Linked DNA regions of Homo sapiens: region 2 is linked to region 1. A link means that fine-mapping ties the variant in region 1 to the expression of a gene that starts in the linked region. Tissue or cell type: lung. Region 1 holds a variant in brackets; the other region holds the start of a gene. All regions are shown on one strand. Distances are between the middles of the regions.

What was found. PIP is the estimated chance that this variant, and not a neighbour inherited with it, causes the effect.
Region 2: it holds the start of SLC24A3, and the variant in region 1 is fine-mapped to the expression of SLC24A3 in lung (TOPMed, PIP above 0.99).

Annotation. Positions count from the first base shown.
Region 1 is chr20:19,406,945-19,409,626 of GRCh38, forward strand. All of the region lies in intron 2 of SLC24A3 (solute carrier family 24 member 3), which reads left to right. Among named protein-coding and RNA genes, the nearest start is that of SLC24A3-AS1, 120 kb to the left of the region's middle. The variant T/G (reference allele first, on the strand shown) is at 1,136.
Region 2 is chr20:19,211,241-19,213,922 of GRCh38, forward strand. It overlaps SLC24A3 (solute carrier family 24 member 3), which reads left to right and starts at 1,402. Exons shown (of 17, transcript NM_020689.4): 1 at 1,402-1,744. The coding sequence starts at 1,603. It overlaps LOC101929547 (a long non-coding RNA gene), which reads right to left and starts at 1,228. Exons shown (of 3, transcript XR_007067549.1): 1 at 389-1,228. RefSeq lists a silencer at 1,753-1,802.

The sequences.
Region 1 (2,682 bases):
ACATGTGGTGCTGCCAGGTGTCTGTGACTAGCACAGACACATATCACTCACCAATCATGGCACTCTTTTCTGTTGATCTCTGACAACACGGTGAACCAGGTAGTTTCTACCAATCTGTGAGGTTGGGATCCAGAGGATATCAATTGACAATTACCAGAGGATCTGTTTCTGGAAACTGAGTAAGAAGATGGGATCTTGTTGGATGCATTAATCCAGAGACGATGGAGGCATCCAAGGACTGGAGCGCCTCCTTGTCACAGAGTCCACAAGCAGAGTGGTTGAGCATTCTGGGAGTGTATTTGGCAGCAGCAGCACTAAGAGGATGGCGGTAGGAGACCTTTGGATAGTTGGAAATGCCCTTCAGATGGAAAGCATTCGCCATCTTTAGTTTTTCTGTGTCCCGGTGCTGTGTCCTCATTCCTGTCTTCCTCCTGTGAGTTGAGAACGGGGCAGGTCGTGCTCTGATGCTGCAGCTCCTGCTGCTTCCAGTGTGAAGGGGCACCTGGCAGAGCAGAGCTGCCTTTCATGTCGGACACAGAGGAGGGAAAATAACAACAAAGTTTTCCTGCTTTAGAAGAGAACTGCAGGAAAGATGCAGCAGAGAGAGCTCTTCGTGGAGAATAAATGAATCACGGAAGTGTCTATTTTAGGAATCTTTACTCTTGATTAATCTCAGACATAGAAAGAAAAGAAAGGAAAACAAGTAGCCAAGAACAACAATAGTAATGATAGTTGTCATTTAAACTATGCCCTTCTTTTCCATGTTATATAGGTTCCCATTCTCCACCATATTGATGTCTGAATCTTTTATATTTTAGCAAGGACATATTGGCAATGGTCAGTCTCTATCATGGCGTCTGCATGCTAACCATGAAACCGCCACAGAAGAATTTGGCAGAAGGTGTCACTGAAATAGGAGTAAGTCCTTCTACTTCTTTCTGCATTCGTGGTGGTTGGGACACACCAAGGATGAAGGCTGCTACAGTTCTAAGGAAACCTTGTGGCTTTATGGGAGTAAACCTGTAAAACTGGTTCCTTCTCTGAACATTCTTTCTGTAACACTTAAAAAAATACCAACAGTTTGCAAAACGCTTCTAAGAATAGAAAAGAAGTCCTCCCTTACCTCAATAAAATG[T/G]GGGAATAAAATGTTGAGTACAAATGCCTTTGAACTCAGAAACTGGAGAATTTGTAATATTTTACTTTTGTCTGATTGTGAAACACATGCCTGTTCATTGGAGAAAAGTTGTAAAACACTAAAGTACCAAGTAAAAAATACTAATTATATCATTCAGATATACCATTAACATTTAGTATATTTGTTGTCATTAAAAATTCTATAAACATTTTTTTTAAATCTACATAATGCTTTGCCATTCCTAAGAGATTAACCCGTATAATAATTTTCCCCTTTTTCTAGTGAGGGTTTATTTTTGACATTAAAAATACTTTTTTTTTTTTTTTTTGAGACAGAGTCTCGCTCTGCCACCCAGCCTGGAGTGCAGTGGCATAATCTCAGCTTACTGCAGCCTCCACCTCCCAGGTTCAAGCGATTCTCCTGCCTCAGCCTCCCAAATAGCTGGGACTACTGGTGCACACCACTACTCCCGGCTAATTTTTGTATTTTTGGTAGAGACAGGGTTTCACCATGTTGGCCAAGCTGGTCTCGAACTTCTGGCCTAAAGTGATCCACCCACCTCAGCCTCCCAAAGTGCTGGGATTACAGGTGTCAGCCACCACACCCGGCCTAAAAATACTGTTCTGATGACCATCCTTGTGCCAAAATTGGTGTCTCCATTTTTGTCTATGTCATTAGGAGAGATTCCTAGAAGCAAAATACTGGTCAAAGGGTTATGGACAATTTAACACTCCTCTGGAAATAAAGGACATCCATATAATGTGGCAAATAATTTATAAAGCATTTCACCAGGGAAATGAGATTTGCCTTCATGTTTTCATTCATTCATTTGTTCATTCGGGAAACATTTATTGAGCTCCTGCTGTATGCTTTCACTGTTCTGGGCGCAAGAGACACAGGGATGCACATGAGAAATAGTTTGGCTAAAGGGAGAAGACGATCCAGAAACACATCAAAGCACCAGATATTATCAGGGAGAGTTCCGTGAAGAGCTCAGTGTTCTTGGGTCATGTTACTGAGTTGATTGGTGAGGAGGGAGACTTAGAGCTTCTTTAGATTGTAGATCCAGGAGGCCTCTCTGAGAAGGTGACTCATAGGCTGGGACTGAATTACAAGGAGACACCCTATGAAGACCAGGGAGAAGGAGGAGCCCTTCCCAGGAAGAGGCGCAGCAGGAGCAGAGGCCCTGCAGGGGACCTCTGTGCATGGGCGAGGGGAGGTGGAAACAGCTGCAGGGATAGTGGGTTCAGGAAGCAAAACATGAGTGCAGATGTTGACACTGAAGGGTCTAGAGGCAGGATGTTTCCCATCAGGTGAAGACCAGGGTGTGCAGCTTTTGGAGAGTATGCATGACCTGAGAAGGAGGAGAATGTTCTGTGCCGGATCAGACAAGTGAACTAGAAAAGGTTCTGAGCACCTTTGTGGATGAGCCACTGAGTCAGAAAGACTGCAGCACAATTATGCTCAAATGTCTCATTGGAGAAGGAGTAGGGGAGATACATTTCTTATATGATTGTAACAAGCAAGGAAAAATAACCCAAGTGTCA
Region 2 (2,682 bases), 200 kb before region 1:
AGGGTATGAAGCTAGATTCCCTGATCTGAATGGATTCCATGGAGACAGTCACCTAGACAGACACCTGGTTTCAGGTGATCCCTTTCTGGACAAGGTCTTTTGTTTTCAGCGCCCCCCCACCCTCCGCCCCAACAATGGCATCTCCTCCTCAGCCCAGCCAGCAGCCCCAGGCTAGCATCTGGGAAGAGTCCAGGGAAGCCCAATGAGGGAGAGTGGGCTGTGTCTGGGATGGCCAGGGATCCCCTCCAAATGGGCACCTGCGGCAGGTCGTGAGTCCAGCCATCTCTAGGGCAGCCCACACCTTCAGCAAGGAGGGGCAGGAGACCTAGAATGGGGGAAATGGGAGGACTAAGATTCTAACGTTGGAGGTAGGGCAGGCTGGTGTTACCTGCACAAGGCCAGAAGCCTCTTCAGGCCGCCTCTCCAGGGACCGTGCCAGCTGTCCCCACTTCGATCAGCCACAGTATTGGACTTGGTCCAGCACGAACAGAAAGCGAAGTGTGAGCCCAAGACAGAGGGGGGAGCCGGACACCCTTATGGAACTAACAGCCTCTGGGGAGGCCTGTTCCAGATCCCGAGTCGGGCGCACAGGGGGATCCCCGCAAGGGGGCAGAGGGAAACCCGGGAGGCCCGCGAGAAGAGGCGAGGCCAGAGGCTGGGCGCGGGCAGCCAAGCGCACTCGCGGCGCCCCGACTCCAGGTAGCACGTAGAGAGGAGGCTGAAGAGCCCCTCGGTTTTCCGAAAGTTTCCAGCGAATCCTTCTTGGTGAAGATCGGCCTCTGGGAGGCAGCGTGTGTGCTTCCCGAGAGGGGGCCCCCTGCGCCGTCCCTCTTCCCCTGGCACAGAAGGGTTGAAGGACTGCACACAGGGATCCCTCCCCAGCCCAGTCTCCTCCCAGCGCGCCCCCTCCCCGCCATGCCGGCCAGCGCCGGGCTGTGTCCCAGGCACTGCCCCCCGCCAACCCTGGCCCGACCAGCCTCGCCGCTGCAGGCTGCCGGGAGCTGCGCTAGCTCATGCTCCCAGCTCGCTCGGTGCTCCCTGTTCGCTCCGGCCCGGCCCCGGCCCCCATCGCGCCGACCATGGAATAGGCGGGCGGCCCCGCGAGGCGCTCCTGCAGCCGGCGAGGCCAGAGCCAGTCCGGGGTGGCTTTGCCAACCGGCGGAGTTGGCCAGCGGCGGGCCCTCCTACCGTCGGTCCTTCCCCGCTCCTCCTCCTCTGCCCCCTCCGCCCCCGCCTCCCGGCCGCCCCCGCCGCCCCCGCCGCGCCGCCGCCCCAGGCCGAGCGCGGGCGCGGAGCGTGGGAGCCATGGCGCGCGAGGAGGAGCGGGACCCCGAGCGCCGGGAGGCGGCGGCGCGGGCGAGCGGCGAGGAGGAGGAGGAGGGAGGGGAGGAGGGACTGGGCGATAGCGACGAGGAGGGCGACGACGAGGAGACGGGCAGCGGCGAGGAGGAGGAAGAGGAGGCGGAGGCGGCGGCCGGGTGGGAGCGCAGCGAGGACGCGCGGCTGCTGCGCGCAGGGCTGCCTCCTGCCGCTGTCCCCGCCGCGGCCGCCCGCGACAGGAGCGGCCGCCGCCCGCCGAGGCCGCCGCCCGGCCGCCCGAGGATGCGGCCGTCCGGCGACGAGGACCGCGCGCGTCGCCGCCGCCGCCGCCGCCGCCGGAGGGACCTTCTGCTGAGCCAGCTCTGCTTCCTGGCCTCGGTGGCGCTGCTGCTCTGGTCGCTGTCGAGCCTGCGAGAGCAGAAGGGTGAGTGCACGCTGCCTGCCCCGAGTGGGCGCTGCGGCTCCGGCGGCTCGGGGCTCCCGGGGCTGGGCGCGGGGCTCCTTCGGGCGGCCCGGCCGGAGCCCCAGGATAAGCGGGCTGGGTTGGCGGGGGGAGTGGGATGCCAGGCACGAGGACTCCCCCTGCCCCACGCAGAGGCATGGAGGTGGGGACCCTGAGCGCCAGCAGCCAGCAGGCTTAGGCGTCTGGCCGCCCTGGGAACATTTACCTGTGCCCGCCTGTGCGCTGCTTACTCGCGAGCTGGAGGTACTGCTGGTGGCGGTGGTGGGGAGTCTTACTCTCCATCAGCCCCCAAGGCCAGGGATAAAGTTGTGGTGGTAGACCCGGCACCTGTGCAGGTGACCACCTGTATACTCCTTGGCTTGCTGAAGGATTCAAGGGGACTGCTTAACACACAGTTGTCCGTATGTTCTCCATCCAGAGAGCAGGCGGGATGGCCCGAGTAGAGAGCTCTTCAACCCCCTTTCAGAACAGGTGCCGGGAACTTCAGGGAGAGAAAAAGTGTTGGCCCTCCAGCTATGGGCTAGTAGGGGACTTGTTCTCCTAAAATGACCACTCACTGGGAAGACAGGGAATTCTTCCTCAGAGGTCCCTTTTGCAGAGCTGCTGCTGTGGAAGAAATGGTTTGCAGTGGACCACGCATCACACTGTCCGCTCCTCTACCGGTGCTCTGCGCAAAGTCTGCCCTTTAACCCACAACTTTTGTCTTGTCTTTGTCCTTGGCCTTTCTTGAGCTGAAATAGATCTTGTGTGCTCCCAACAGTTGTCTGCTGAAACAGCTTCGATCCTGGGATTCAGCTGTCTATAAAATGAAGGAAAAACATGGGAGAATAACTGTTGTAAAATGGTTTTATATCCCGGCCGTGGAAGTGGCACGATTAGTGGGAAAACAGCCATGTAAA